Regions from separate parts of the Homo sapiens genome. Here regions 2 and 3 are each linked to region 1. The links come from fine-mapping of genetic effects on gene expression. A gene starts in region 1. Each other region holds a variant in brackets. All regions are shown on one strand. Distances are from middle to middle. Region 1 holds the start of FBXL16 (F-box and leucine rich repeat protein 16). Region 2 holds the start of RHBDL1 (rhomboid like 1). Region 3 overlaps HAGHL (hydroxyacylglutathione hydrolase like).

Region 1 (10,179 bases):
GGGGAGGGGGTGTAGACCGGAGCCGGGACCAGGGGTCTCGCCAGAACACGTGGCCCTCGTGGCTGAGAACCCAGCTTTGGGTTTAAAGTCCTTCCTGCCCTAATGGCAGGAGCCCCAGCTCCACCCTCTGTACCATCTCCCCCTCCCCAGAGTATCATTCGGGTCCTGGAAGGTGAGGCCGGGCCCTCCACAGAGGAGGCACCCACAGCCGGTGACCCCCATCATGTGCCCATGATCAGAAGGCGCGGCCTCCGGAGGCCGACATCACAACGTTTGCAAGGGCCGGCTGGGGTCGGCACATGATTCGACCTCACGGCCGCCCTTAGGGGTGGAGGGGTCGCTACCTCAGGTTTGGGGAAGGAACACGAGGCTCTGAGGAGCGAATTTGCCCCAGGTGTCCGGGGAGGCCTGGCGCGGGGCTGCCTCGGTTCCCTCCCAGAGCCGGGGAGAGGGGATATCGCAGGATGCCGGCGCCCGAGGCGGCAGCACCAGGCCCACGGGCGCCCCAGTCTAAATATCCTCCGTGCCCCTAGAGCGGGGACCCTCGCTCCCCAGACCCGGAAGCGCCGCCTTCCCCGCCAGGGACGCCTGGGCCTCCGCAGACCCCGCCGGCCGGCGCGCCACCCGCGCCAGCACCATGGACAGCGGCCGCCCCAGCCGCGCGCTCAGGGCCAGGCCCGGGCTGGCTTCCACCGCGGACGGCTGCGGGGTCGGGGCAGCCCCGCAATCCCAAATCCCGGCAGCCCCCGCTCAGCAGGGAGGGGCCCCGGGGGCGAAGAGTGGGGGAGAAGCCGGGAAGGATCCGGAGGAGGCGGCGGGGGCGGCGCCAGGGGAGGAATAATCCCGGCGCAGTGCCGATTTAGGTTGAAAACGCTCCCAGTCATGGGCCTGCACGTGGAGCGCCGGGGCTGGGGGAGGCATTCGCGGGGCTCCTTTCCCGCCCCGCTCGGGAGCTCACGTTTGCCGGCGCCCACAGTCCCGTCCCCACCTCCAGGCCTCAGGGTCGAGATGGAGAAACCAAGCCGCACTTTGAGAGCCCACAGGAGGGAGGGGACAGGCTGAGGAGCGGCCGTCTGGGTATGGGTCCGGGGCCTGGCTTCCCTCATCCACACCCGCAGCGCTGCCAGAAGGCGCTGCTCTGCCTGTGGTCAGCCCTCGACCCGTGTGCTTGGTGGGAGCTGCATCCCCGCACAGGCAGCCCCACTGCTCCCCAATCTCGCGTCCACGTTCCTGCCGGCCCCCGCTGCTCCTCACACTCCCGGCTTGACTGACTCAGCCCGAATATCCCCCACCCCGTAGCTCAAAAATGCAAACAGCCACACACTTTGGCCCAGGCATGGGCGCTGCGGGAGAAAGCTGAGCTCAACTGGAGACTGGGGTCTCTCTGCCCGTTCAGCGAGAAGTCCCTGGGGGCTCACACAAGGGCCCCTCTGCTTGGCCCTGGGCCCGGCCCCACCCACCCAGCCAGACGGTCACCAAGGAGCCGGTTCCCATGGCTCACAGAGCCCCCTTTCCTGCTTGGCGACTGTGAGAGCCCTCGTTCCACCCAGAGGGGCTCGGACGACCTGCGTGGGCTGCTAGGGACTGCCTCTCCCTTTAGGGACAAGCAGCCCGGGTGCTAATACGGGGAAGAGACTTGTTAAAAAGGTGGCCATGCCTGCACCATCCTCAGCCTCAGCCCCTGTGGTGCTGGCTCAGCTTGAAGTGGAATCCTGTCAAGGCTCCGGGGCTCACCCCAGGGGAAAGAGAGAGAGGTGGCCCCACCTCAGCTGTCTTGTCCTCAGCAGCCTGAGCCTGGCCTGGGAGCTGCTGGGGAGAGGTGGCCGTGGCCTCTGTGTCCTCCCCAGGGGACGCAGTGTGAAGCGTGTGGCCAGAGTGAGCCTAGGGAGCACGGTGGGGCCTGGGTGCTCCTGGGGGTCCCCACATGTACATGTACAGCATCCAGGCTGACCATTCCCAGACGGCCATGTGGGGGCCCCGCAGGAGCTGCCTCTTCTGCGAATCAAGTCACTGAGCCCGGAGACCTCAGCTCCGGCCCCTTCCCAGCCCTGATGCCACAGCCCAGCCATGCCATTCCTCCTCCCCTGCTCCTCTGCCTGGGCACACGCCGTTCCCCCTGCTTGCCTGGCAGGGTTTCCCTGCCTTAGCCCTGCAAGCTCTTCTCCTCCATCCCTCAGTTCCTGGTGCGAGGTCGCCCCTGCCTCCTGCTCCGGGACCCCCAGCTCTTGAGAAAGCGTCTCCAGGGTCTTGCAATCACATGGGTTATCATCACTGTCCACCTGGTGTCTCTCCTCCTGGCCTGAGGACTCTTGAGGACAGACAGCACCAACGTGCATGGCCTCTGCATGTTCGCGGAATGAATGAATTAGGGAACGAATGAATGAATGCGGAATGTGGCTCCGCTAGCTCAGTCACGCAGAAAGGGGTGCAGCTGCCAAGGCCCCCGGAGGGCTGATGGAGGATTGGTCAAATTTAGGAAGAGGCCGGTCAGCGGGGAAGGCACAGCTCGGGAAATTAACCCGGATCGTGCCATGGCCAGTGTCCGCGGGGAGAGTGGCCTCTGGGGTTGGGACTAGGTTGGTACCTGAGTCACTGAGAGGGCTCCCAAGACCCCAGGGCTGGGGTGGGCCTTGCAATACACAGAGCCTTCGGATGAGGAGGGCCCATCTCCTTTTCAGCTGGCTCTCTCTTCAGGAGCTGCAGGGCTGAGGAAGTGGCTGCCCGTCCTCCACCATCTGGCCTGAGCCAAGAGAGGGAAGGGGGTCCTCCTGCCCCGCTCTCCCTGGCACCACACGCACCCCTCCTCTGACCGGCCAGAGTCCTTCCTTCACACACTGCCTAACTAGGAGTGGGGAAGCAGAGCTTGCAGACGGATTTTCCAGAAGTTACATAGAGCTAGGATTGGCTCCAAAAGCCCCGGGGCTGGCTGATTCCCTCTACCTGGGTCCTGCCAGGTGTACCTCACAGGGTCCTCGCTCTGCCCTGTTCTGCCTCATGGGGTCTCGATGCCTTCCTGCTGGGCCCTGGGCTAGTGGTCTCTCCAAGTACTGCCCTCATCCTGCAGGGTCCCTGCCACGGCGCTGCATTCCTTGCAGAGGCTGCACACCGCGTGCCCACCCCTGGGACATCCTTTTGGACACATGCCTGGGAAACCTCCTCACCCCTCAGCGCCCCCAGTTTGAAGGTCTCTTCCCCCATCTCTGGTGCCCCCATCTCTGTCAGCACCAGACTGGGGCACAGCCTAACCAACCACTCAGCCCTCATAGAACCTCAGGGACCATTGAGCCCTGCCTGCAGAGGGCCTTAGAGCTGGGCAGGGCCCTGGTGGCCAGAGAAATGCACATCGGGCTCCATCTGCAGTGGCAGCCCCAGAGCCTGGCTGACAGCTGGGGTGGCTGGGGATTGGGGACAGGGTGCAGACTGACACATTCCGTGGCAGCCCCGTGACGCAGGCACACCCGCGTCCCTGCCACTTGGCACGTGGCACAGCGGCAGAGCTCCTCTCCCGCCCCCAGTTTGAGATGCTTCTGGGGGTGCACCAGGGGCTCTGAGGAGGGGCACCATGGCGCAGCAGGCACGTGGCCTCAAGAGAAACCCGTGTTGCTGCCCCAGCAGACTGAGGGCCCATGGTCAAGCCCAGGGCAGCTCAGCCTTGAAAGCTGGACACCCTGGGGAGTGGGTGCTGGGATCCAGGCCTCATCTCAGCCCCTGCTCGGAAGAGCATGAGCACCCTCAGAGGCGAGGCCTGGGCCCCTAGTGCCTACTGCTCCAGGCAGCTGCCACTAACCATCACCCCTCTTTCCTGCCCAGTGAAGGAATGAGGCCTGAACCCACACATTGCAGCCAGTTTGGCCGTTGACTCCTCCTGCACCACTGGTGGGGAAGGCTCAGTCACCTGCTCACCCACAGAGCTCCCTTCACTGCCAATCCAGTCATGGGAGGCACAGCAGTGGGTGCCCACATGCAAGGAGATGGGGTCTTCGGGTGGCTGAACAGTGCCACCTGGGTGGGAGATCCCTAACTCTCAGCAACACAAGGCTTCCTGGGTCCATGTCCAGCTGGTTCAAGGGCCCCGTGCCTCCCACACAGGAAGCTGTTTGTGTCCTTCTCATCAGTGGGAGGTAGGACTCGTCCAGCCGCCCCGGAAGTGGGTGTGAGCTGGAGGCAGTGAGTCTGTCGATGGAGGGGCTGAACTCAAGGGTCTGGCCCCAGATGAGGGGCAGTTGGGGTGGCAGGGGGCAGGGAGTGGGGCAAGTGAGTCCTAGGGTTCCCCCACACAGCGATGTTTGCAGCTGGGCCTTGAATTTCCCTCCCCTCCAGGCGGCTCCAGGTCCAGCCCTGTGTCCACCTCTGGCCAGACCAGCCAGGTTCCACTAGGCCTCTGCCCTGGTCCGGGAGACAGAAAACCCTTCAGTCTCCTGGCCTGACCCAGGCCTATCTGCTCCAAGGCTGCTGTCCAGCACCCCACAGAGGGGGTGGGCTGGGAGACGGCCCTGTGTCCAGGGAGGCCTGAGCTGCCCCTGGCCATTGGGCCCTCGGATGCACGGGTGTGGGGGAAGGGCCTGAAGGAAGAGGCAGGTGAGGTGGCCTCCGCCATCTGCTCCTCCTGCGGAGGGCAGGCTGCCCGAACAGAGCCTGGAGCCTGGGAAGGGCCTGGAGTGGCCGCTGGGCCGTCAGTTCCTGAAGCTGCCACCGCAGCCCTCTCTCCTGAGGTGATGGGTGGGGAACGCTCTCCACCCACCTAATCCCCAGGAGGACACCGGACCCCTCCCGAGCAGGTCTGAAGGTGCCGTTTCCCTTCTGAGGCCCTCCAACCTTGGCCAAGGCCCGGTCCCGCCTCCAGAACCAGGAAGGTGCCAGCCTCCCCCCACCCTCCTCCTCCCGCGGGCAGTAGCTCAGCGCAGGCCCCGGGTCCAGAAGCCGCCCGCCCGGGGAGGGCCGCCCCTCAGGCCGCACATCCACGCGACCCCCATGCAGTTTAACGGTCTCTGGCCTGTCACTTCGGTCCGGGGGCGCCCTCTGAGCCGACCAGGCGCCCGGGGTGGAGGCCGGGGGCCTACAATTCCTCCTTTCGGCGTCCCAGGAGGCACGGACCCCCAGCCCCGGCCGAGTGGCCAGTGGGGAGCGGCCCTCTTCCGGGCCAGGGGCCGGGGCGCGGGGCTGCGGGAAGGCCAGGCAGGGACCGAGGCCCAGCGGCCGCGGGGGAGGTGGGGAAGGGGCTGCCGTTACGTAAGCCCTTCCCGGGCGGCGGCGGCGCGGCCCCCACCCCCACCCCGCCCCCTCCTCATTGTGGCCGCCGCGGAGGTGCGGCCTGGCCCCCTCCCGGCCCCGCAGCCCGGCCGCACGCGCACCTTACCTCGGCCCGGGCTCCTGGCTCATGCCACGCTGTCCGCCGGGCGACCTCCCGTCATGGGGAGCCCGGCATGGGCGTCGGCGCGCGGGGGCCGCCGGGGTGCTGGACTGGCCGGCAGGGCCCGGCCGCGCCCTGCGCCCCGCGTCCCGTCCTGGCCGGGCCCCCTCGGCAGCGCACGGAAAGGAGCTCCCCGGTGGGAGAGGATCGGCCGCCCCAAGCCTCCCACCGGGGAGGCTGAGGCTGTGCCCAGATAAATAAGGCCGCTTTGCAGGGAACCAGGCGGGCGCCTCCTCCTCCCCTCGCCCTCCCCGCGCTCCTCCGTGGCCGCCGCCGGCGCCGCGCGCGCCCCCCGCCCGGCACCAAACGCCGCGCCCTCGCGCGCTCCCGGCGTGGCGAGCCAATCCGGGTTCGCGAGCCCGGGCGGGGGCGCCGAGAATGCCGAGCCCCGCCCCCGCCCCGCCCCGGCCCCCGCGCGCGGCGCGCTCCCGGCACGGCGTCCACGAGCACGCGCCAGGCCCGGCACGCGCCCCCGCCCCGCTCGCCGCGGGCACCCGCACAATAACAAACCCCGGCGCGCGGCGGGCGGGGAGGGCGCGGGAGGCAGAAGGGAGGGCGAGGGGAGGCGGGAGAGCAGGCGCCGGCGGGTGGCCCAGGGGTCCGGGGTCCTATGGGGACCGGGGCGGCACCGCGCGTCCCGGCCCTTGGCCACCACTTGGGGAGGCGAGGAAGGCGAGACCCGGCCCAGAGGAGACAGGGTGGTCAGACCCCCGTCTCTGGACCCTCCCGCCCAGCCCACGGCAAGGACCCTTCACAGCCCTCACACCCCCCGCGCACCTGCTGCGTGCCCGGCCGGAAGCCCCTCATTGGAGACCCTGGCACACCCGCAGAGCGCGAAAACAAGTGACTGCACGGATCAGTTCAGACAGTGACAGTGAAAGCACCCGAGGGCTTGCGGTGGTGACTTCTGGCGGGGGCTTCCTGAGGGTGCCCCACTGGAGCTGAGACCCCCCCACGGCGCGAGGGAGGGATGGCTCGGGAATGGGGGTGCAAAGATCCGAGGAGCCTGGCAAGTTCCCTCGGGAATAAACTGGAGGCTGGAGGCGGCGGCGGCTGCTGCAGCCCGGGGCAGGGGTGGGGCGTGCTAGGTTAGGTGGAGGACTCGGTGGGGACCGCTGGAGACCCCAGACGCCCCAGCAGGCTCAGGGCAGGAGAATGGAGGCCAATGGCGCCCTATCCTGGGGTCTCCTGGGAGCAGGGCCGGGGGAGGGAGCAGGTGTGGGGAGAGCAGAGGGGTTCTTTGCACCGGGAAAGAGCTACAGGGCTGAATGGGGCTCCTGAGAGTATCTCAATAGGAGTGAAACCAGCTGCTGTTCCCAGCGTCCTGATGGGAAGCCTGGCCGAAGGGGCCGGTGTGAGGCCTGGGGTCAGCGGGAAGGAGGGTCAGACTGACGGCACCCTGGCTGGGTCCCGGGGTGGGGTGGTTCTGTGCTTGCTGTGGGGGCGCCACTGGGTCTACCTGGGGTGAGCGCAGCAGCTCTTCTGCGTAAGTCTTGCCCGGTACCTGGATACTGACCAAAGAAGGTGCCCGGAGTGGGGCAGACAGGACGAGCCCCGTGAAGACAGTTGGGGCAACAGGGGAGCGGCGGTCCAACCTATCTGGGTGTCTCCGGTGCATGGTCTGGCAGGCTGGCCCTCTGGCAGCAGCTTCCACCCCAGGCGTGGACTGCTCCCGGTAGGAGGGTTTCACCTCGTGCCTGGGGCTCTCACCACAGCAGGTGCCAGGGCCTCAGGCAGAGAACAAGCTGTGCTTGTGTTGAGTCCCAGCTGGGGCTGGAGCCGGACACACCCCAAGCGCACAGGGCAGGCTGGACACACCCCAAGTGCATAGGGTGGGCTGGACACACCCCAAGTGCATAGGGTGAGCGTGGGAGTCAGGCATTTGGGTCATGCAACCCTGGCGAGGCCCAAGAAGCTAGCCCTGCCTGTGGGGAATCTGAGCAGGGAAGAGTGTGTGGAAGATCATCACAGAAAGGCCAACCGTGCTCCTCCAAAGCGGTGACCCACCTGCCCTCCACCTCTGTGACCAGCTGTGACCCACCTACCCCCCACCTCTGTCACCAGCTGTGACCCACCTACCCTCCACCTCTGTCACCAGCTGTGACCCACCTACCCTCCACCTCTGTCACCAGCTGTGACCCACCTACCCTCCACCTCTGTCACCAGCTGTGACCCACCTACCCTCCACCTCTGTCACCAGCTGTGACCCACCTACCCTCCACCTCTGTCACCAGCTGTGACCCACCTACCCTCCACCTCTGTGACCCCACCTGTGCCGGGCAACTTTGTCTGTCTCCACCATGGCTGGTGGCAGCTACTTCCCCATTGGTCTCTCCACCCCTCTCCCATCTCCTTTTCTCCCCAGGGTGCAGCGGGGCCATTTTGCCGTGCAGACATGGTCCTGTTCTTCCCAGGGCCCTGTTCATTCTTTGCTGAAGACTGCACAGCCCTGAGTGCCTGGCACGGCTGGCCCACAGCCTCGCTCTATACCTGGCCCCTTGAGGATGAAGCTTCAGCCACACTGGCCTTCTTCTGGGGCCAGGAGAGTGCCCCATCCCTAACCTGGTGTGCCCCTCCCTTCACCTGGAGCACCCTTCACCTGGGGCACCCCTCACCTGGAGCACCCCTCCCTTCACCTGGAGCTCCCCTGCAGCACCCCTCCCCTGGAGCACCCCTTCCTGGAGCATTTCCTCATGTGGAGCACCCCTCCCTTAGAGCACCTCTCGCCTGGAGCACTCCTCTCCTGGCCCCTTGCCTGGAGCACTCCCTTGCCACCTGTACCTGGGTGACTACTTGCCTTTCAGACCTTGGCTAATGTATTCTCCCCTAGGTGCCCTCCCTCAGGAGGACAGGGCCACAGACCCGTGTCCTCACCTCCCCAGCACCAAGGACCTTCTTTTCTCAGCCTGTGTCTGCCTGGTGTCTGATGGTGCATTTGATGAGCTATTGGCTGACTGTGCCTGCTGAGGGCCAGGGTGCGGTCTTCTTCCCCACCACCCTGTCCCTGGGCACTGAGCCTCCATCTCAGTACGTCACAGGTGCATGGCAAATTTGGCGAATGAGGGAGACAGCGATGCGTCAGCAGCATGAAAGGTGACTGGCACCAGCAGTTTGGATCGCCTCCTGTGGCGGGAGGCCCTTGTAGAGGATACCTTTGGAGAACAGCTCACACCCCAGAGGGAAGTGGCTTGGACAAAGGGGGCTGCTCAGCAGACTTCGATCTCCTCTGGGGGATGTGGATACCGCTCAGGCCCGCACCCCTCCATTGGTCCTGGAGACTGATATGGGAGGCGGTATGTGCCTTGGCTCCGGAGGGCACCTGGAGCACCCCTCACCTGGAGAACCCTCATCCAGAGCACTCCTTTCCTGGAGCACCCCTCACCTGAAGCACCCTCAGTTGGAGCATCCTCTCACCTAGAGAACCCTCACCTGGAGCACCCTGTTACCCGGGGCACCCTCACCTGGAAAACCCTCATCTGGAGCACCTTCTCACCTGGAGAACCGTCACCTGGAGCACCCTGTTACCTGGAGCACCCTGTTACCCGGAGCACCCTCATCTGGAGCACCCCCTCACCTGGAGCACCCCTCACCTGGAGCACCCCTCACCTGGAGAGCCCCTCTCCTGCAGAACCCCTACCAGGAGCATACTTCACCGGGACCACCCCTTGCCTTGATGCCTCAGCACTGAGGAGTCTCCCATCTAGGTGGCTGGGAGGGCACTCTGGAGCCATGGGGATGAGGACCAGAGGCTGCTGGTACATCTTGCCCTGAGACTTTGGAGGACTGCAAGGGGACCCACATTCACTTCAGCTCTGCACCTGTGGTGATATCCCCACACTGGAGAGCAAAGTGATTGCTCCGGGGGCCAGATGGCCACGCCACCATCCCCCCACACACTGCCCCTGCCCCCTGCCTGGAGCACAGCCCGAGAGCACCCAGGATCATCCATGTGAAGCAGCAGGCTGTGGGTATGTTTGGCCGTCCCGACCCCTCCACAGCCAGAATGGGCACCCATAGGCATGAGAACCTCACAGCCATTAGGGGTGCCCTGAGTGCCATGGGCGGTGGGATTTCTCTGATGCCCCCCAGCTCTGCTCCCTGCCTGGCTCGCCCCCTATCAAGGCTAAGGATGACTCAGGGCCCAGCCATCACCATAGCAACACGCGTCGCCTAGCAATGGCGGTCTCCCGGCAACGGTTGTCTCCTAGCAATGGGATATTTTCCTGGGCCCTGGCTGGAGCCCGGCAGTTATTTTTAGCTCCACAGCAAATCAGTCGGCAGCTGCATTTTCGGCTCCTTGAAGAGAGGCAAGGTGTGGGGGGGTGGGTCTCTCGGCAAAGGGAGGAAAGCATCCCCAAGATAGGAATCTTGCTGCCGTGGGCCCGGAGGTGCAGGCCTGTGGGTGGGCGAGGCCGGATCCTGCCTGTGCAGGGGGGCAGGTGGCCGGTGGAGGGGAGCCAGGGGTTGTGCAGGCTGCCTGGATGAGTCGGCAGCTAGGACTATGTCCTTGATGGGCCCCCAAGCACCCTGAGCCTCATAGGTCGGCTGGGTAGAGGGGACGCAGGCCAGTGCTCACAGCTGCACTATCAGAGCATGTTTCTGGGTGGCCCAGGGTCTGGCAGGCTCTTGGCACCCAGTGCCCCTCAGCTGTGGGAGCCATCTTCACTGTCCCAGACCCCAGCTCCACCCAGGGAGGGGGCAGCAGGGCGGCCGCAGAGCAGCACATTTGGCCAATCCCGTGCAGGGCTCAGCTGGGGACACAGGAGGCG
Region 2 (10,179 bases), 25 kb before region 1:
CCCTGGCGCCGCCTTAGGGCGGGAGGTTTTGCTGTCCTGCATGGAGTTGCAAGAGTGGTCAGGGGCCTCCAGCCCAGGGTGTGGACGAGTGGGCTGGGCTTGGTCGTCAGAGCCAAGGCGGCTGCAGCAGCGTCTTCCTCCTCCTAAGAGGCGGCTGTAGTGGCCATGCGGGACGAGGGACTTCCTTGCTGCTGCGCTCGGTGGGGGGTTGCGGGGGGAGGGGGTGTGTCTGCTGCAAGCAGGGAGCTCCAGCCGGTGGCAACATGAACCGCAGGGAGTACTGGGTCAGCCTGGAGGGGGAGCAAGCAGTGGTCAGGGAAGGCTTCCTGGAAGAGGTGGCATCCTCACAGGCCTGAGCCCGGGAAGGCTGTGAGAGGGCGAACGGTCTTGCATGGGGGGTTTTAGGTGCCCCCCATCCCCGTGACTCCATTTACCAGCGGCTGCCGTGGAGGTAGTCCAGTGTGCTGGAGCTGCGCCAGAGCGGGGGTGGGGGCCGGCGCTGAGACGCGGTGCTAGCTGGAGGCGGTTCCTGTCCGGGGTGTGCGTCCGCGTGCAGGGTGCGCGCGTGTCTTGGCCGCGCGTGGCGGCGTGTGCGGCAGGGGCGGGCAGGCGGGCGACTCGGTGACGCGGCCCAAGCGCGGCGCCGAGCGGAGCGGGCGGAGCGGGCCGGCTGGGGCGGAGCGGAGTCGTCCGCAGAGCAGCCCCTCCCGGCCGCGGCCGCCGACCCCGGACCCCGGCCCCCGGCCAGGCTCTATGGACAGGAGCTCGCTGCTGCAGCTCATCCAGGAGCAGGTGCGTCGGGGGGTGGTCTGGGGAGCTGGCACCGCCCCCAATGCGGCCCTCCTGCCGCTGAGCTGAGCTTGTGCGGGACCGAGCTCCCCGAAAGCCCCGCTCGGTACCTACCTCATCCCTCCACGACCTTGGTCCGTGTGTCTGGGACCCCAGGAGAGGACTGACTGGACCAGAGCTCCTGGCTGGAGAAGGGAGAGTCGGGGGGAGGGAGGGAGGGAGGGAGGGAGGGCGGGCAGCTGGCTGGTCTTGGACCTTGGCCCTCGCTTTCCAGGATGGGTAGGGTGGAAGACGGGGGAACAACTGAGGAGCTGGAGGACTGGGACCCAGGCACCAGTGCCCTGCCAGCTCCTGGGATCAAGCAGGGTCCCAGGGAACAGACAGGCACGGGGCCCCTGTCCCAAAAGTGCTGGGAGCCTGAGCCTGATGCTCCCAGCCAGCCTGGCCCAGCCCTTTGGTCCAGGGGTCGGGCCCGCACTCAGGCCTTGGCTGGCGGCTCCTCACTGCAGCAGCTGGACCCCGAGAACACAGGCTTCATCGGTGCGGACACCTTCACTGGCCTGGTGCACAGCCATGAGCTGCCCCTGGACCCGGCCAAGCTGGACATGCTGGTGGCCCTGGCTCAGAGCAACGAGCAGGGCCAGGTCTGCTACCAGGAGCTGGTGGACCTGGTCAGTGCCACGGTGGGCAGGCGGCAGGGGCACGGTGTCCTGGCCAGAGGAGGCGGGCAGGCAGCTCCTCACGGCGGTGGGTGGGGGGCTTGTGGATGCGGGGAGCTGGGTGAGCCTCACAGGCAGGGGTGCCATGGGGAGGTCCGTGGCCCACACTCAGGCCCCTGCCCCCAGATCAGCAGCAAGCGCTCCAGCAGTTTCAAGCGGGCCATTGCTAACGGACAGCGGGCACTGCCCCGGGACGGGCCGCTGGATGAGCCAGGCCTAGGTGTCTACAAGCGGTTTGTGCGTTACGTGGCCTACGAGATCCTGCCTTGTGAGGTGGACCGCCGCTGGTACTTCTACCGTCACCGCAGCTGCCCACCCCCCGTGTTCATGGCCTCGGTCACTCTTGCCCAGGTGGGCCCCCCGGCCGCTGCCCCGGGAGCCTCCCGCGCTCCTGGCCATGACCAGCCTAACACTCGTGTCCCCAGATCATCGTGTTCCTGTGTTACGGGGCCCGCCTCAACAAGTGGGTGCTGCAGACCTACCACCCCGAGTACATGAAGAGCCCCCTTGTGTACCACCCCGGGCACCGTGCCCGCGCCTGGCGCTTCCTCACCTACATGTTCATGCACGTTGGGTGAGTAGCACTGCTGCCCGGTGAGCCCCGCCCCAACCTGCCATTACATCAGAAAGGCTTAGCCGCAAGGCAGGTGCGGCAACTTGAGGTGACGGCTGGGGGTGGGGCCGGATGGCTGACCCCACCCTTCGTACCCGTTTGCTTCCCTGTGGCCAGGCTGGAGCAGCTGGGGTTCAACGCCCTCCTGCAGCTGATGATCGGGGTGCCCCTGGAGATGGTGCACGGCCTGCTCCGCATCAGCCTGCTCTACCTGGCAGGCGTGCTGGCAGGTGAGGCAGGCGCGCACCCCCGCCCCCTGCCCTGGCCGGCTGCACCCTCACCCGCCGCTTGCTCACACAGGCTCCCTAACCGTCTCCATCACCGACATGCGGGCCCCGGTGGTGGGAGGCTCCGGCGGGGTCTACGCCCTGTGCTCGGCACACCTGGCCAACGTTGTCATGGTAACGGGCCTGCCCGGTGGGGGGCGTGGGGAGGGGCCCCAGGTGAGCCTCACCACTTCTCGTCTGCACACACCCATAGAACTGGGCTGGGATGAGATGTCCCTACAAGTTGCTGAGGATGGTGCTGGCCTTGGTGTGCAGTGAGTAGGGGCCGGGGGGAGGGCCGGGGGGCCTCTCAGCCTGCAGCCAGGGCACCTCCCACCTGCCGCGTCCCTCTGCAGTGAGCTCCGAGGTGGGCCGGGCCGTGTGGCTGCGCTTCTCCCCGCCGCTGCCCGCCTCGGGCCCACAGCCCAGCTTCATGGCGCACCTGGCAGGCGCGGTGGTGGGGGTGAGCATGGGCCTGACCATCCTGCGGAGCTACGAGGAGCGCCTGCGGGACCAGTGCGGCTGGTGGGTGGTGCTGCTGGCCTACGGCACCTTCCTGCTCTTCGCCGTCTTCTGGAACGTCTTCGCCTACGACCTGCTGGGCGCCCACATCCCCCCACCGCCCTGACCGGCTACCTGAGGCTGCACAGGCCAGGGCTCGGGCATGTGGTGGCCGCCCACCAGGGGCCTTCACGTCTGCCCTTTGTGAACGGACGTCTCAGGGCTGCTGTGCCCCTTGGGTGTGGGTGGCCTCAAAGGAGGCCCTGTCCCAGCCACCCACCCCCCACTCCCAGGACTTGCGGTCTGAGCCTTTTTGGATAATTAATAAATATTTTACACAGCACCAGGGGGCTGTCCCGGGCTCTGGAGACTCGTCAGGGCCCCCACACCTGCTGCACAGACCGCGACGGCCCTCCCCACCACGGGGGCCTGGACTTCCCTCCTTGTGCATCTCTGCACCTGGGGTCAGGCGTGGGAGTTGTTCCTGGGCCACAGGTGCTGTGTCTGTGGGAGCTGGGGGCACGCGGGATGGCTGGGGGCCGGGCGTGTGGTCAGGCCAGGTGTGTGGTCAGGCCGGGTGTGTGATCAGGCGTGAGTTTGGGAAGTGTTTATTGAGCTCCCGTAGTGGCCAGCCTCCTCTTCAGCCTCCCTGCCGTCCAGTGAGACCCGGAGGCCTGAGGTTCTGTGGCAGGTGAGCAGGCCTGGGCCATGGCCAAGTTTACTCGGCCTGGGTTCCATGCTTCTTGGCTGGCCTAGCATCCTCGTGGGTGGCCAGGCTGGGGCCAAGGTTGGGCAGCAGGTCTGGGCACAGCCTCTGCCCCACAGCCCAGGTCCACAGTGCTGTCTCCACTAGGTAGGGAGTCCACTGTCCTGAGGCACTGGCTAGGGAGGGGCACACGGACTCAGGCCCAGGGGCACGGGCCACCCCAACCTGCCCACACACAGTTCATTCCCCTTGGCTCAGAGCTGTGGCCCGCTCTTGAACCTGGCCCAGGTACAGCAGGTAGTACCTGAGGGTGTACTGTGGGGCCGGCCAGCCGGGCACTGTGGCCACCGCCTCATCTGACATGAAGGCCTCCATCTCTGGAGCTCCAGCTGCCAGGACTGCTGTGAACAGCGAGGAGAAGCAGCCAGACACACCCCATCAGGACAAGCTCTGGGAGACCCTGCTCCCAGCAGCCCAGGGCCCTATGGTTCCTGCTCCTAGCGACACGCAAGGGCCCAGACTGCCCGCTTCACAGACAAGAACGCCTATGTACCCAAGTCGTGCCCACCCAACTCACCCGAGGCTGTGGTGGGCCCACACCGCAGAGGGCACACAGCTCGGTGACTGCAGCCCCCACATCTGGCAGGAGGCAGAAGGTGGCGGTCGAACAGTGCACAACCAGCTCAGGGGGATTGGTGGCCACCAGCTGCTGCAGACGTGGCCGGAAGCGCCCCTCTGTGGGAGGCCAGGTCAGGGTGCCTGGGGTGCTGGACCCACCAGGGAGGCCCCGCCCCCACTGGAGACACCCGCCCCGCCGATGCCAC[G/T]CCCCAATGAAGACCCGCGCTACGGAGGCCCTGCCCTCGGGGCGGGCCGCCCTTCACAGTCAAGCTGCCAGGCCAGCAGCCGCTCCAGCTCCCTGTCACATGCTTCTCTGCTCTGCCCCTGATGGCCGCTGGCAACTCTTCCCGATACCTGAGGAAGGGCGGTGAGGGGAGGACTGGCCACGGAGGACGCTCGCCCCACCGATCTCTATCCCCTTCCACTCTACCAACAGTCCGGGGCTTCCAGCCGCCCTCGGGGGCTCGCGCTCGCCCGTAGCACCTCTCGTGGCGCTCCAGAATGGCAGCCCAGCGACTGGGGTCCTCACACCCCACAGCGCGTGGGAAGCCGCTACGTTCACGCGCAGGGGCGGGAGGCGGCGGCTGGGGGCGGGGCCTCTGCTGATGGGGCCGGGTGCTGGGGGCGGGGCCTCTGGATTGGGCGGTTGCTGGGGGCGGGGCCTCTGCGGATGGGGCTGGGGGCGGGGCCTCTGCTGATGGGGCCGGCGGCTGGGGGCGGGGCCTCTGGATTGGGCGGCTGCTGGGGGCGGGGCCTCTGCGGATGGGGCCGGCTGCTGGGGGCGGGGCCTCTGGATGGGGCCGGCTGCCGGGGGAGGGGTCTCTGCGCGTTGGGACAGGGGCGGAACCCCAGGTGGTCGGGACAGGCTGTTGCGGGAGCGCGCCCTCAGCGAAGCAAGTGAGGCATCTCACTGGGAAAGTCGAATGTGTGTGGCGGCCGCCGCCGAGGCGGGTTCCGAAGAGACCTCAGCAGGGCAGGCCAGGGCCTACGCGAACGCCCACCCTTAAGAGCGCGGGGACAGGGAACTGGAGCGTTCCTCCCAGCCCCCGACGTCGCGGGCCCAGTGTCCCCGTCCAGGCTGGTTGGGCGCACGCGCGGCCCCACTCGCCCCCACGCGTGCGTCCCCGCTGGTCCCGCCCCCGGCCGGAAGTTCCGGCGGCGGAGCTGGGCCGGGCCCGAGCGGATCGCGGGCTCGGGCTGCGGGGCTCCGGCTGCGGGCGCTGGGCCGCGAGGCGCGGAGCTTGGGAGCGGAGCCCAGGCCGTGCCGCGCGGCGCCATGAAGGGCAAGGAGGAGAAGGAGGGCGGCGCACGGCTGGGCGCTGGCGGCGGAAGCCCCGAGAAGAGCCCGAGCGCGCAGGAGCTCAAGGAGCAGGGCAATCGTCTGTTCGTGGGCCGAAAGTACCCGGAGGCGGCGGCCTGCTACGGCCGCGCGATCGTGAGTGCGCCCGCGCGGGGAGGGCGGCGGCGGTGGCACCGGGGAGGGCCGGGCCCGGGCCCGGCCGGCCCCACCGAGGGTCTGGCTCCTCTTCGGGGCGTGTCCTCGGCTCCCAAAGCCCAGCCGTGGTTCTCGAGCCCAGCGCCGGGTGCCGGAGAACGAGGGTGCGATGCTGGATGGAGGCCGGCCGGGTGGGGGGAGGGCAGGGGCCCTCGACCCTTGAGGACCCCAGGTCCTAAGCCCGGACTCTCCAAAGATTTGGAAAACTTTACAAAACCAAGTGGAATCAAGCGGATAGGCTCAGCCAGTACTCCACTGTGCACAGATCCTTGGACCCAGGGGCTTTGACAACTGAGAAACCTAGTTTCTTGATTCTAGCCAGAGCGCAGAAGCTGGGACGGGCCGTGGGTCAGAGTGGGCACGCTGAGCCTACGCCCTCATGCGGCTGGCCCGGCCTTGGTCCCTAGACCCGGAACCCGCTGGTGGCCGTGTATTACACCAACCGGGCCTTGTGCTACCTGAAGATGCAGCAGCACGAGCAGGCCCTGGCCGACTGCCGGCGCGCCCTGGAGCTGGACGGGCAGTCTGTGAAGGCGCACTTCTTCCTGGGGCAGTGCCAGCTGGAGATGGAGAGCTATGATGAGGCCATCGCCAATCTGCAGCGAGGTTGGCTGACAAGCTGCCCGGTTGTGGGGCCTCTGGGGCCAGGCGGGTGGACTGGCCAGAGAGTGACGTGAAGCCCCCGTTCCCCAGCTTACAGCCTGGCCAAGGAGCAGCGGCTGAACTTCGGGGACGACATCCCCAGCGCTCTTCGAATCGCGAAGAAGAAGCGCTGGAACAGCATTGAGGAGCGGCGCATCCACCAGGAGAGCGAGCTGCACTCCTACCTCTCCAGGCTCATTGCCGCGGAGCGTGAGAGGTGGGACCCTCACCCCAGGCCGCCCTGTCTTGGGATAATTCTGAATCACCGACTCCCGACACAAGCGTTTATCGAAGGCTTTACTGGCAAGCAGGAAATGTGGGGAAGTGTGGATGTTAGCTCTGAGATTGGGGTGTGGTCAGACATCTGGCCAGGTCCATCTCTGACCGGCTCCTGGTCAACCCCCAGGGAGCTGGAAGAGTGCCAGCGAAACCACGAGGGTGATGAGGACGACAGCCACGTCCGGGCCCAGCAGGCCTGCATTGAGGCCAAGCACGTGAGGGTGCCCCCCACCCACATGTGGGTCTGTGTGTGTGCACGTGGCGTGGGAGCATCCCCGCCTTGTGTTGGGTCTGTGCCCCATGGAGGAGGGAGGTGGGGTGTCTCCCCCAAGCACAGCACTCAACTCTTCACAGGACAAGTACATGGCGGACATGGACGAGCTTTTTTCTCAGGTGGATGAGAAGAGGAAGGTGAGTGTGTGTCGCTTGCTGCCGATGGCTGGCAGGTGCTCGTGCAGTGCCCCTTTTCAGCCTCTGACCGTGTGCCCCTGTGCCACAGAAGCGAGACATCCCCGACTACCTGTGTGGCAAGATCAGCTTTGAGCTGATGCGGGAGCCGTGCATCACGCCCAGTGGCATCACCTACGACCGCAAGGACATCGAGGAGCACCTGCAGGTGAGGCCTGCGGCTGGGGGAGCAGGGCCAGTGGCATGGTCCTGGGCCCCATGACTGCCCTCTGCCCTTCTTGTCACTGCAGCGTGTGGGTCATTTTGACCCCGTGACCCGGAGCCCCCTGACCCAGGAACAGCTCATCCCCAACTTGGCTATGAAGGAGGTTATTGACGCATTCATCTCTGAGAATGGCTGGGTGGAGGACTACTGAGGTTCCCTGCCCTACCTGGCGTCCTGGTCCAGGGGAGCCCTGGGCAGAAGCCCCCGGCCCCTATACATAGTTTATGTTCCTGGCCACCCCGACCGCTTCCCCCAAGTTCTGCTGTTGGACTCTGGACTGTTTCCCCTCTCAGCATCGCTTTTGCTGGGCCGTGATCGTCCCCCTTTGTGGGCTGGAAAAGCAGGTGAGGGTGGGCTGGGCTGAGGCCATTGCCGCCACTATCTGTGTAATAAAATCCGTGAGCACGAGGTGGGACGTGCTGGTGTGTGACCGGCAGTCCTGCCAGCTGTTTTGGCTAGCCGAGGAAGGTGGAGATGAAGACGCTGGTGTCAAGGTTGAGCGTAGCATGCCACCAGCGGTCGGGGAAGTACAGCACCTGGTGGAGGAAGGGGGTGCAGCAGAGATTAGCTGCGGGCCTCTAGCCTGGCCTGGCCCTCTCCTGCCAGCCACTGACCTCACCAGCCCGGATGGTACACTCCAGGGGCCGTGCAGACGGTGGCAGGGCTGGGTATGTGTCCCGGAGCCAGGCCAGCGTGGTCTTGTTGGGGTGGAACTCTGGCGTCTTCTCAGGTGGGTAAAGGAACCAGCGCTGGGGGCATGAGCAGCAGTGTCACCCTTGCCCGTTTTGGTCAGCGAGTCCCAAGCCTCAACCCCCACCCCGTGCTGACCTTACGACCGTAGATCACTTCTGAGTACCCGGGTCCATGCCAGTGGAAGGGCACCCCCGAGCCAGCTCCTGTGGGGTTATGAGCACCTGGTGACCAACCCATTTTGTACTCACCGACAGAAGCCTCAGTCCTTCCCAGTCCCAAGAAGCACCCACCTGCGATTCCAAAGCTGTAAGCTGGAGCGGTTCCCAGCAGGCCAAATGGGGGTGGGGAGTAGTGCCGAAAGAGAGAGGCCCACTCGGTGAAGTTGTTGTCCCCGAAGAAGTACAGGGTGTCTGCCAACAGAGACGGCGGGGACAGGGATCCTGGCACCTGGAGACTCCAAGCGTCCCCACCCCCTACCGCCGCCTAGGGCTGCCTCACCATTGCCCAGGGAGGTGGGGTCCTGGGGGTGCAGCAGCTGCTCCACATACTCCTGGAAGGGCAAGTCCACTGCAGGAAAGAGACGGGTCAGGACCGTCTGGTCCAGCCGCCCCGGTGTTGGCAAATGGGCGGGCCCCAGGGGTGAGGCCGCGTACCTTTGTGGTAGGAGTAGGTGTTGGCGGTGCTCAGCCGGACCACTCTGTCCCCAAACGAAGCCAGCAACCTGTCGCGGGAGCACAGGGCCCGGAACCTCTGCGGGGGCGGGGAGGGGACTTAGTGGCCGGGCCCAGCACGGGCGAGAGTGGCCGGGGACGGACGGGCACGCGCTCACCGAGTTGTCCGTGAGTCCCTGCAGGATGACGGGCCTGACGAAGGCGTACCTGGAAAGAAGGGCAGAGTCGCGGCCAGGCCGGACCGCCAGCCTCGCCGCCCCAGCCCCACGCGTGCGCGCGAGGTCAGGGGAAGGCGGCCTTGGGCGGTCGGGGCAGACGGGCCGGTGAACAGGACGCGACCTCCGCGATCAGGGGCGCACGTACTGCTGCACGAACTCCGCGTAGGTGAGGTCGGCCCGACGCTCCACCGTGCAGCGCTCCTCCTCCGCCACGGCCCCCGGCCCGCCCGGGCGCCTGCGGGCACAGCTGGGTCAGCCCGCGCCCCGCCCGCCGCACGTGACCCCACCGCCCGGCCCCTCCCGGGCCGCTCACCACCCGCCGTCGCCCTCCGCCCCGGAGCCGGGTAGAGCCACAGCCGCCAGCGCCCAGAGCGCGAGCAACCGCGACGCCGGCGCCATGAGCCTGCCGCCCTCAGGCAGCCGCGCTGCACGCCGGGAACCTTGGGCCCATCCGCCAGCCATTGGCCGGCAGCTTCGTCGTCGTGGCAACGGCCGGGAACCGGGACGGACCCCGGAAGTGACCTCCTTTGGCCCGCCCCGGAAGAGGCCTCTACGGGAGGCACTGGGAAGGCCGCCCCGAGAGCGACTATGGGCGCCGCCGGTTACCATGGCGACAACCCCGCCGAAAGCCCCCGCCCGCCAGCTGCCCCGCGGGCCTACGGCGAGCCCGCCGCGCTATGGGGTGACACGCAGTGCCGACAGCGGCTCTACTTCCTTTATTGAGGTCTCAAGTTCCAGCCTCCGCCCGTCTCGGGCACAAGACCAGGCGGGGTTCTGCACGCGGCCGCCCGGGCAAGCCCAGCAGATGCCCCGTCAGGAGTACTCGCAGAGGTGGCCGCAGCCTGCGGGACAGTGGGAGCTGCCTTCCAGCCACTTCATGATGTGCTGCAGGTGGCCGCCGTGGCTGCAGCCCTGGCACCACACGAAGAGACCCTTGACTACGTGGTGGCAGACGGCACACATGCTGGCGCAGCGGTGGCACCTGGGGGCGGGCGGGAGGGAGGGTGCCTCAGCGGGGGCTGCTGCGCTGCCTGCAGGCCCCTGCCCCACCTCCCGACCCCACTGCCCCACCTGTCGCAGACCCAGCCCCGGCTGCTCATGGGCCGCTTGCAGTGGCTGCAGTTGACGTGCAGGGTGGTGGAGGCCTGGTTGAGGCAGCTGACGGCGCGGCTGGTGCTCAGCTTGACCACCTCGTTGGACACGTTCCAGAGGCGGAAGCGCTGCAGCAGGTCGATGTAGGAAGTGTACCAGTGCTCCTGGGGGAGGGAGCGCCCGGCAGTCAGGATCTGGGTGCCA
Region 3 (10,179 bases), 28 kb after region 1:
TTGGGGCTCCCTGAAGTTACGGCACCTCTGGCCTCCGCCCTTTCGCTGCTGCCTGGCGGTCCCTGCACGCGCTGGGCGCAGTCACCGCCCGCTGGGTCCCCGCTCCCCGGCGCTCCCCGGGGCTCTGGCCGGCCTGGGGCAGTGAGCGCGGCGGATCCCGATATGGAGGGAGTGGGCCACCGGGACCGTCTGTGTTACCGTCACTCCCGTCCCTTTCAGCTGCTGGAGATCGTGGGCCGGGAGGGGGTGTCTCTGACCGCTGTGCTGACCACCCACCATCACTGGTGAGCGCCGGCGGGGCGCGGGGAGGCACGAGGACGCCGCCTTGTCCCAACCCGACCTAACCCGGCCCCCGCCCGCCCGCCCGCAGGGACCACGCGCGGGGAAACCCGGAGCTGGCGCGGCTTCGTCCCGGGCTGGCGGTGCTGGGCGCGGACGAGCGCATCTTCTCGCTGACGCGCAGGCTGGCGCACGGCGAGGAGCTGCGGGTGAGCGCGCGCTCCCGGGAGGGGCGGGGAGGGCGCCCCGGGTCCACCCGCCCTCACAGGTCCGCCTGCTCCTCCGCCGCAGTTCGGGGCCATCCACGTGCGTTGCCTCCTGACGCCCGGCCACACCGCCGGCCACATGAGCTACTTCCTGTGGGAGGACGATTGCCCGGACCCACCCGCCCTGTTCTCGGGTACCCGCAGCGCGGAGCGCGCCCACCCCGCCTCCCGCCGGCCCCGCCCCATCTGCTCTGACCCGCCCTCCCCCGCCAGGCGACGCGCTGTCGGTGGCCGGCTGCGGCTCGTGCCTGGAGGGCAGCGCCCAGCAGATGTACCAGAGCCTGGCCGAGCTGGGTACCCTGCCCCCCGAGACGGTGAGCGGGCCTGGGCCCTCCCCTCTTCTCCCGTGGGCACAGCCCCCACGCTCCGCACCCTCACTGTGCTAGGGGTGCAGAGTGAATGCCCACCTGAGGGCAGACCGGGCAGGGGAGGCCAGGCCCCCGGCGCAAGCACTTTCCCCGCTTCCTGGCCGCGTGCGCGCTCACCGAGCGCTCTTCCTCCAGAAGGTGTTCTGCGGCCACGAGCACACGCTTAGCAACCTGGAGTTTGCCCAGAAAGTGGAGCCCTGCAACGACCACGTGAGAGCCAAGCTGTCCTGGGCTAAGGCACGGCCCCTTTCCCGCCGCGGCAAGAGGGTGGGGGGGGAGGGAACAGGCTTCGGGGTGGGGGGGGCTCTCAGACAAGGCCTAATGGTGACCGGGGCCTGTGGTCACTCCAGAAGAGGGATGAGGATGACGTGCCCACTGTGCCGTCGACTCTGGGCGAGGAGCGCCTCTACAACCCCTTCCTGCGGGTGGCGTGAGTATGGCTGTTGTCCCGGGGCCTCCACCGTTACGTGGACCCTTAGGAAGGCATCTGGGGACTGCGTGTTGGGCTGAGTGAGCATCTCTGGCTTGGGGGAGGCTGCTCATTAAGTGCCTGCCTGCCCGCCCACCCCTCGGCGCCATGCTCCCGCGTGGGCAGCGGGCCCTGCGCCTCACTGCACCCCTCCCTGCAGAGAGGAGCCGGTGCGCAAGTTCACGGGCAAGGCGGTCCCCGCCGACGTCCTGGAGGCGCTATGCAAGGAGCGGGCGCGCTTCGAACAGGCGGGCGAGCCGCGGCAGCCACAGGCGCGGGCCCTCCTTGCGCTGCAGTGGGGGCTCCTGAGTGCAGCCCCACACGACTGAGCCACCCAGACCCTCACAGGGCTGGGGCCTGCGTCCCTCCTCGTGACCTCGGCCAGCTGGACCCACATGAGGGCCACCTCTGGAACCTTCTTCGAGGCCCTGGCCAGCCATCTGCCCAGCCTCGGAGGGTGGGCAACCTGGTGCTTCCCGGGTGGACACACAGGACCACTCAGTGGGGCCTGTGTGGGCGCCGAGACCTGGGTGTCTGGGAAGTGGGGCACACGGGGCCTCCGAACTATGAATAAAGCTTTGAAAGGCCGTTGTCAGTGTTGGCAGATGTGCCAGGAGAGGAGCTGTTTTCGTAGGCGTGTTTTAGGAGGGGTGCGTTTATTAGACAAACGCTGGGAGACAGGCCTGGTGGGGACCTGGCTGGGGGATGATGCAGCCCGCGATGGCTGCTGCTTCGTACTTGGCTTGCCCCGGACCACAGCCTCGTAACGGTAACCCCTGCTTTCCAGGGGCCTGGCACCCCCCCCTGCCAGGGTCCACACGCAGGGTTGTGGCGGGACCACCCCTGCAGGTCCAGCTCTGTCTCCCACCTTTTGCACAGAGCTTCAAGGGAAGCCTCCAGAAGTCAGGGGTGAGAACCCGTCTTGCTCTGCCTCAGGCAACCCCGGGACAGGCTGAAGCCCCTCACGCACTTGGGTGCCCGACCAGCAGCAGCAAGGGCAGCACCTGTGGGCCTCGGCCCAGGGCCAACGGAACAGGCTCTGGGACCTCAGGGAACCTTCTGCTGCCTGGGCCACCCCACCCCACCTGGGCAGAGCCAGTGGGAACCCAGAGGCACCCAACTGGAGGTGACGAGGCGGCTGCGGGTCCTGGCTAGTCCTAGCTCCTACTCGGGTCCCAGCACACCCTGCAGCTCACTCAGAATTTTGGGGGAAGCCCTGGGGTCTTGGGGCATGTGGTTCTGCTGTCACACATGGACACGGCCTCCTGGGAGTCCTGGTCCTGCAGCCCCTACCACCGGATGCCCAGGCCAGTGCTGGCCTTCTCCACGGCGTGGTACTGCGTATGCAGCAAGCGACCTGCACACTCCGAGTCCGTGCCCTGCAGCCAGTGTGTGTACAGCTCCTGAACCCCAGGCGCGTCCTCGGGCGCCTCAGCCCGGACCATGCCGTACAGTCTCTCCACGTGCTGGAGGAGCTCTCTGCTGGGCCTGTCTGGGGCCTGGAGCTGGCCCCCGCCGTTCAGGCAGCCTATGGGAGAGCAGACGGGACAGGGGTCACAGCCTGCGCCCCAGCCAAGCTTCCTGACCACCAGGGAGCAGGGAGGTGACCGGGCCCCCTCTGTGCCCCACTTCCTCCCACTCCCAGCCTGGTGGATGGTGGCCCACAGCTCTGCTCCCAGAAGGGGTCCTCGTGTCCTGTCCCTTGCAGGAGCTACCTGAGGGGCAGGCCATGACCTCCACGTAGTGGTAGGGGCAGCGCCCTCGTTTGAGCCTCTGCACCAGGTTCTGGATGTTGCGGAAGCCGTACGCCATTGCGAAGTGCAGCAGCACCTGGCCCTCCTTCTCCAGTGTCACCTCCTGGAAGTCTTTGTTCCTGGGGGGCACAGGCGGGGTTTGTCTACATGGCACACCCACCAGGCTCCTGCCTGCCTGGAAGGGGAGGCCTGCTGGGCTTCAGGGGATGACCGGGTACCTCCCAGGGCTCTCTCCCTCTCTCCTGGGCAGAGGGAAGGACAAGAACGGAGAGAGAGGGTGGAAGGCTCACTTCCTTGAGTCCAGCAGGGGACCTCACCTCCAGCCTCGGGCTGTCTGTGAAACAGGCCTCCCTCCCCAGGGATGTCTGTGAGGCCCTGGCCCTCCCTCCTGGGATGTGGTCGCGTGCCTGCGCCAGGCACCCATCACCTTTGCCCATGCTGGCCTCTCGGGCTCAGGGTCACCATCCCCCACAATGGGCCGACTGAGGCCTGGAGTGCTTAGGTGCCTTCACACCCTGAGCCCGCCAGGAGGGCCCTGCCTGGCCCCAGGGTCCCCTCCAAACCCTGCAGGCTGCCCTCCACCCAGCCCACCTCTGTGGGAGGACCCCAGGGGAGGCAGCAGCCCGAGGAAGGCTGGGGGCTGTGTGGCCGCTCTGCCCAGAGATCTGGCCCATCCCACTGACCTCAGGGGTTTGTAGGTAACCTCAGCCACATGGATTCCAAAGAGCTCTCGGGCCGCGTGCCGGAACACGTGCTCCAGGTAGCCCCCCGAGCCCCCTCCCCGATGGCTGGTGGGCTCCTCTGCAGAGGCACCGCTGCACCTGGCAAGGAGGGAGGGGCCTCAGCACAGCTGGGGCTGCTGCCTGCCAACCTCC[C/T]GAGCAGGGCCTCTGTCCCTCACACATGAGCGTTTGCATTTCCAGGTGGGAGACAAGTCACAGACACAGAGGAACAGCTCCTGTGTCACCAGCCATCACAGGGGCCCAGCCACTTCTTGTTTTTTTTTTTGAGACGGAGTCTTGCTCTGTCGCCCAGGCTGGAGTGCAGTGGCGTGATCTTGGCTCACTGCAAGCTCCGCCTCCTGGGTTCAAGCAATTCTCATGCCTCAACCTCCCAAGTAGCTGGGATTACAGGGCCTGGCATGGATTACCACCATGTCTGGCTAAATTTTGTATTTTTAGTAGAGATGAGGTTTCACCATGTTGGCCGAGCTGGTCTCGAACTCCTGACCTCAGGTGATCTGCCCACCTTGGCCTCCCAAAGTGCTGGGGTGACAGGCGTGAGCTACTGCGCCTGGCTATCCAGCCACTTCTGTGGACGCCAAGATGGGCTGCGGGGAGGCAAGCCCAGAGCAGGGGGATGCTATCCTCAGAGGCAGCGTTAGAAGCTAAAATAACAGTTCTTGGTGGCAGACATACGTACAGGCTGTCCAGAGGGGCTGGTTCCAGGTCGGGGAGGGAGACGCCCTCTTCCTCCAGCAACCTGAAAACTTCTCCTGCAAAGAAGCCACAGCGCAGACACTCTTTAGCGGAGATCCCAGCAACAAAGTCAGAGAACATCCAAGCCACCTGCATCCCCAGCAGTCTGCACTTTGGCCCCAGAAGGCCCCAAATGTCCACCCTAGCCCGTGGTGGGGAGGCCAGGCCCGGTCACTCCTGAAGCCCCTCTGGAGGCTGCCTGGTCCTGCCCAGGGAGGTGTGCCAGCGGCCAGGCCACTCTGCTCACCCAGTGTCCATCTGTCCATCCTCTTAGGCAGTCTGCTTTTCTTTTTTTTTTGAGACGGAGTCTCACTCTGCCGCCCAGGCTGGAGTGCAATGGTACGATCTCGGCTCACTACGACCTCTGCCCCCCGGGATCAAGTGACTCTCCTGCCTCAGCCTCCCGAGTAGCTGGGATTACAGGAGCACCACCACTACTCCCGGCTAATTTTCGTATTTTTAGTAGACATGGGGTTTCATCATCTCGGCCAGGCTGGTCTTGAACTCCTGACCTCGTGATCCACCCACCTCTGCCTCCCAAAGTGCTGGGATTACAGGCGTGAGCCACCATGCCCGGCCACAGTTTGCTTTTCTGCCTCACATTTGGGAGACTGTGGGGCTGCTCGACTCAGGAATGGGGTGACTCATGGGAGCTGAAGAGGCTGCATTCGAGAATCTCTGCCCACCTCCAAAGACTCATTTCAGAGCCAACAAGGAGGTATTACTGAGCGCCACCTGGCTGCAGGTCCCCAAGACAGGCCAGCTGCAAATGGGCCCACCTGGCTCCAAGGGGAGAGACGAAGGTACGTGCACGCATGCGAGCCCCCACACTCCAGCCAGGGCCCCCACAGGCAGGATCCTGGGCAGTCGCCACCTGTGCCCAGGGCTCAGGAATCAGACCAGGAGGCTTGAGGGCTCAGGGCCGCACGGCGTGACCGCACCTGTTGTGAGGACACAGTCCACATCCCGTGTCTGGTGCTCCTGGTTGAAAAAGTCGGGTCTGGAGGCTTCCAGCTTTTTGTCATAGCAGGGCATCACTGTGACGTGGTAGATCTTGTCAGGGGTCAAGTGCTACAAGGAGAAACAAACACTTGTCTCCCCAATCCCAGCAGTAAGGTGGCTGAGACGGGACCTGGAACTCAGCCATCCTGCAGCCAGGCCGGACCCCGAGGGACAGTGAGCCTCACTCCATTTCCCAGCAAGCCTCCTGCCGGCTCTGCGGATGTGTCCCTGGACAGGACGGGCCCTGGCTGTGACAGAAAATGACACTGACCCATTCCCAGTGTGCCTGCGCTCCCTAACAGCCAAGTCCAGCGGAGGAGAAGTGGCCTTCCCACGGCTCGGGCCGTCTCACTGCACAGCAGCCGGGGAAACGGATGTCACGGGGGAACCAACCAGCTCCAGCCCCGGGTGAAAATCCGCGTGCAGTCAGGCAAGAGGTGCCGCAGGGGACATGGGCGCTCGAGGCCCAGGCACCACCGGGGCCGCCCTCGCCCTCTCCCGCCCCCTGCTGGCTGAGTGTCTTCAGGCTTCTATCCCGCTGGGCCTCAGGTGGGGGTCGTGCTGGGCATCCTCGTGGACCTGGTGGCCGGAGGGGTGGGCTCCAGGCCCGGACTGCCCAGGGCCTCCTGCTCCCTCAGCCTCAGGCCTGGCTGCCTCTGGGTGAGCAGTGAGCACCTCTGGATCAGAACGAAGCCCTCTGCTGCAGAAGAGGAAGGGCCTGAACCAGGAGGGAACAAGGGTGGAGGTGTGCTGGGGAAGGCCGCACAGCACAGCGAGGACTCTGTTTCCTGCAGCCTCATGGCAAGAGGCCAGCAAAGTCACTTCTGGCCGCTCCCCAGCCTGAGTCTGGGGCTGGCCCAACGCCGTTACCTGCTGCTGGGCGAAGAAGTCCTTGACCAGGGAGCCCATGACCTGCTGCGGGGACCGGGCGGTGCTGATGTGGGGGAGGATGAAGCTGCCGTGAGTCTTCTCGGCATAGCAGATCCAGCCTGAGGTGACAGGGGGCACACGGGGCTGGCGGGGGCGCACGGCGGCCCCCGCACCCACAGGCAGCAGCACGACATTCTGGGGGCGGGCCCGCTCATACAGGAGATCATGATGACATTAAAGAGTGCTCATTCCTGTTCTCCCCACCACCACGCGGAGCTCGGCGTGCAGGCGACACCGCCTAGGGACCTGAGGTGACTGCGCGTGGCTCCCACGGGAGGGCAGCCTCTTCTCCAGAAAAGGCCATTTGTGCCAACATTTCCAACCCGTCCCGCAAAACCTGCTTGCGTCTCCACCCCCCATGCCCCCGCCTTGTCATTTGTGTCCATATCACCTCACGTTTCAACTGCACTTGAACTTGACTCTCCCACCACCCGCACCATGAGCACACCTGGGCAGGCAGAGGCCAGCAGGGGCAGCGCCTGTCTGCAGTCGGCCTGTCCTCGGAATCGCCGCACAAACTCTCGCTGGCTCTCCAGGAGGCTGAAGTGCCTTGAGAAGGCGGTGTCGAAGACGAAGTGCACCCCTGGAAGGTGAAGGTGGGTGCCTGGTTAACCCCATGCGGGACGCCCACACGAGCACACGCCGGCGTGTGGACCACCATGGTGCTGCCAGGGCACGTGTGTCGCACCTGCTTGCCGTGCCAAAGCCCCGGCCCCACCGTGGGGACCTCCTAAAGCCACGTTGCGCCAAAGCCCCAGCCCCACTGTGGGGACCTCCTAAAGCCACGTTGCCTCGGCATCCCCTGTGAACCCAGGCCTTGGTTTCCCACCCCAGAGGCAGCCACCCAGCAGCTCAGTCCTCCACCCTCCCAGCTCTTCAGCGTGGCTGGTCCAGGGAATTGCCACGTGCGCTGCTCCCGGTGACCCTCCCTAGGGCACAGCTGGACGCAGCCTGCTGGACTGGCCCCTCGGACCCTGACTGTGCAGACCTACCATAGTGGCCACCCCTCACACACAGCAGGACTCCTGGAACACGCCAGCCAGCTCCAAGCCCAGCCATTAGAACTGCTCAGTAAACCTGCCTGATCGTGCCCTGGACCCAGCAGAGGCACCCGCGTGTGGGTCCCTCTCTCTCTGCCTGACTTGTCATTCCTCCCTCGCGTAACCCGTGGTCGGAGGACTCGCTGTGCCCCACTTGCCCGTCATCATCATCTCTAAGTAAAAATCTTTGAACTTGCTTCCTATTCTGGTGGGGACGAAATCCACACCTTCCATCTGGAGAACCATGGGCTGCCCCAGGCCAGGTTTTCCCTGGGACACCAGGTCAGGCTCCCAGTGCCAGAGCACTGCTCAGGCACCAACTGGATATGGGTCAGACAGGAGCCATGGGGCACCTGCCAGTGTCACCAGGTTTCCAGTGTGAGGGACCTGGGACACAGCTGGATGACAGGCAGTCTGCTGGTTACAAGGCGCACAGGCCTGCCTCACTGGGAATGAAGGGACTGGACATGGTGGTTACCTGTGAAAGGCACACAGTAACCATGAGGTCCAGCCCCTTCATTCCCAGTGAGACACCAGGCACTGGAGCCTAGTTAGCTGGGGGCTCTCAAGACACCCAGATCCTCCCCAAGCCCAGCTCCAGGCACATAACCAAAGTCAGCAGAAGCTGACCTTGGCTGAACCCAACAGAGCCCCGGAGAGAGTGCCTTAATATTATCAGCTAAAAAGTACAAGGAGTTGGTCAGCCCCAGCTTAGAGAAAGTGCACAGTCAGAATGCAGACGTGTTCTGTGAGAAGGCCCTGCTCTCAAATGTCAAATCAAAACTTCAGGCTGAGGTCACAGAGGGAATAAAGTTTCTGTAGCGCTGAAGTTCAGGGCTGGGTAGCGTGTCAGTGACTCAGAGGCGCGAGGGGCCTGGGCTTACTCAGACGCCCCCTTGATTTGGAGCGGCAGTGTTACCCCAGGTTCAAAGCCTACCTATTTTTTTAAAGAATGAGGTTAATTTCCTGGCAGTATCTGTAGGATTCAGCTGAAACCGTGCAGCCAGCGATGCTCTAGACTGTGGTGAGACCGAAACTACAACCAGCCTCTGCTGACTGGGTGCCGCCATCTGCAAAGCAAGGGGAAGACGCTGCTTACTCTGCTGGCCTTATGCTGATTCCTGGTGGCCAGAGCCGCACGGTGAGATGCTGTCAGCTGTGGAGAGGGCAGGCCAGCTCCATCAAGAGTCTTTTTTTTTTTTTTAACACAGAGTCTCACTCTGTTGCCCAGGCTGGAGTGCAGTGGTGCGATCGGAGCTCACTGCATGCAACCTCCGCCTCCCAGGTTCAGCCTCCTGGGTAGATGGGATTACAGGCGTGAACCACCGTGCCTGGCCAAGGGTATCGTTTTTTTTTGATGGAGTCTCACTCTATCACCAGGCTGGTGTGTAATGGCGCAATCTCGGCTCACTGCAACCTCTGTCTCCTGGGTTCAAGCGATTCTCCTGCCTCAGCCTCTCTAGTAGCTTGGATTACAGGCATGTGCCACCACACCTGGCTAATTCTTGTATTTTTAGTAGAGACGGGGTTTCACCATGTTGGCCACGGTGGTCTCGAACTCCTGACCTCAGGTGATCCACCCGGCTCAGCCTCCCAAAGTGCTGGTATGACAGGCGTGAGCCCCCGCGCCCAGTAGGGGTGTCATTTTGATGTATATTTAGAACCTGAAGTTTGGGGCCTGACACGTTCACCACTGGAGCCCACTGACAAATCACCAAGATTCCAAGCCTCAAAAAGGCAGGCGCCACCCGCACGACGGACGTCGGCACCACACGAGCTGCCCTTGGCAAAACGCGTTGTCGGCTGCTGGGATGGATTTCAGGTTAAAGCAGAGTCACCAGGCCGACCACTGCTTACCTTGTTAGCATCTAGAACCTTCTTCAGCTCCTCGTGGCTCTGCTGGGTGATAAGCACGGTCTCTGCGGAGGTGATGCAGCCGCTGCACGCCAGGCAGTCGTTTAGCGAGACCTTGGCCTTCTCCAGCCTCCGGGTCCCGCCGTCCTACAAGGGAGAAGAACCCGGTGCACAGGGGCCCCCTCTGCACGAGGACATGGAGACAGAGGATAGTGGAGTCCAGCTCATAACCGACAACCAACATGGCTGCTGGCTGGGCTTGTGTGCCGCTGAATTTTTAAAAATTAGGTATGTATTACAAAAATGCACACGCACGCTCTACAGTTTCATAATGCCGTCAAGTCTGCTTCTTGGTACCACTTGGTTAGTGCATCCGAATCACAGGACTAAGGCTTGCCACTGGTATCTCAGCAAAGCAGCAGCCACCCCACTCACCCATGGGGCCCTGGACGGGGTGCTGGCCCCGGTGCACACTCACAGGGCTGTAGGGCAGGAAAATGCCGAAGGTGGGCTCTGAAAGGAGGAGGCGGGAAAGCTGAGGACAAAGGAGGAAAGGACGAAGGCACAGGAAGAGGAGAGCAGAGGGAGGAAGCCTGGGAGCCTGGCCTCCGGTGGGCGGGGCAGAAACAACCGTCAGACTCGCCAAACAGATGCAGGAACAAGGTGTTCCAGTCGGGGGCCTCCGGGACATGCCTCAGCAACTTTTCTTACATGCAAAACGCACCCAGCTCGAGCTCCCCCA

Evidence for each region. PIP is the estimated chance that this variant, and not a neighbour inherited with it, causes the effect.
Region 2: its variant is fine-mapped to the expression of FBXL16 in T cells (TOPMed, PIP above 0.99).
Region 3: its variant is fine-mapped to the expression of FBXL16 in whole blood (TOPMed, PIP above 0.99).

Annotation. Positions count from the first base shown.
Region 1 is chr16:700,156-710,334 of GRCh38, forward strand. It overlaps FBXL16 (F-box and leucine rich repeat protein 16), which reads right to left and starts at 5,646. Exons shown (of 6, transcript NM_153350.4): 1 at 5,357-5,646. RefSeq lists enhancers at 1-731, 6,235-6,851, 6,852-7,467 and silencers at 624-723, 6,730-6,946.
Region 2 is chr16:675,038-685,216 of GRCh38, forward strand. RHBDL1 (rhomboid like 1) reads left to right here and starts at 634. Exons shown (of 8, transcript NM_001278720.2): 1 at 634-792; 2 at 1,299-1,460; 3 at 1,635-1,859; 4 at 1,934-2,082; 5 at 2,239-2,351; 6 at 2,422-2,522; 7 at 2,602-2,662; 8 at 2,744-3,231. The coding sequence starts at 754. The coding sequence ends at 3,015. It overlaps STUB1 (STIP1 homology and U-box containing protein 1), which reads left to right and starts at 5,373. Exons shown (of 7, transcript NM_005861.4): 1 at 5,373-5,647; 2 at 6,115-6,313; 3 at 6,401-6,566; 4 at 6,756-6,843; 5 at 6,983-7,039; 6 at 7,128-7,244; 7 at 7,327-7,764. The coding sequence starts at 5,489. The coding sequence ends at 7,452. It overlaps JMJD8 (jumonji domain containing 8), which reads right to left and starts at 9,297. Exons shown (of 9, transcript NM_001005920.4): 1 at 9,197-9,297; 2 at 9,029-9,118; 3 at 8,824-8,872; 4 at 8,648-8,744; 5 at 8,493-8,561; 6 at 8,285-8,404; 7 at 8,130-8,197; 8 at 7,916-8,050; 9 at 6,633-7,837. The coding sequence starts at 9,282. The coding sequence ends at 7,757. It overlaps WDR24 (WD repeat domain 24), which reads right to left. Exons shown (of 9, transcript NM_032259.4): 8 at 9,955-10,139; 9 at 9,585-9,865. The coding sequence ends at 9,697. It also overlaps the pseudogene STUB1-DT. RefSeq lists enhancers at 1-460, 6,132-6,181, 6,152-6,739, 6,740-7,327, 9,677-9,726 and silencers at 659-708, 4,852-4,961, 5,242-5,451, 8,967-9,276. The variant G/T (reference allele first, on the strand shown) is at 4,419.
Region 3 is chr16:727,746-737,924 of GRCh38, forward strand. HAGHL (hydroxyacylglutathione hydrolase like) reads left to right here. Exons shown (of 8, transcript NM_032304.4): 2 at 220-284; 3 at 371-488; 4 at 571-679; 5 at 759-859; 6 at 1,049-1,150; 7 at 1,264-1,343; 8 at 1,543-1,970. The coding sequence ends at 1,711. It overlaps CIAO3 (cytosolic iron-sulfur assembly component 3), which reads right to left. Exons shown (of 11, transcript NM_022493.3): 3 at 9,441-9,584; 4 at 8,521-8,653; 5 at 6,992-7,126; 6 at 6,484-6,602; 7 at 5,553-5,682; 8 at 4,556-4,628; 9 at 3,820-3,957; 10 at 3,098-3,255; 11 at 2,020-2,910. The coding sequence ends at 2,672. Among named protein-coding and RNA genes, the nearest start is that of HAGHL, 5.7 kb to the left of the region's middle. RefSeq lists silencers at 23-172, 293-402, 413-592, 623-882 and an enhancer at 9,944-10,179. The variant C/T (reference allele first, on the strand shown) is at 4,012.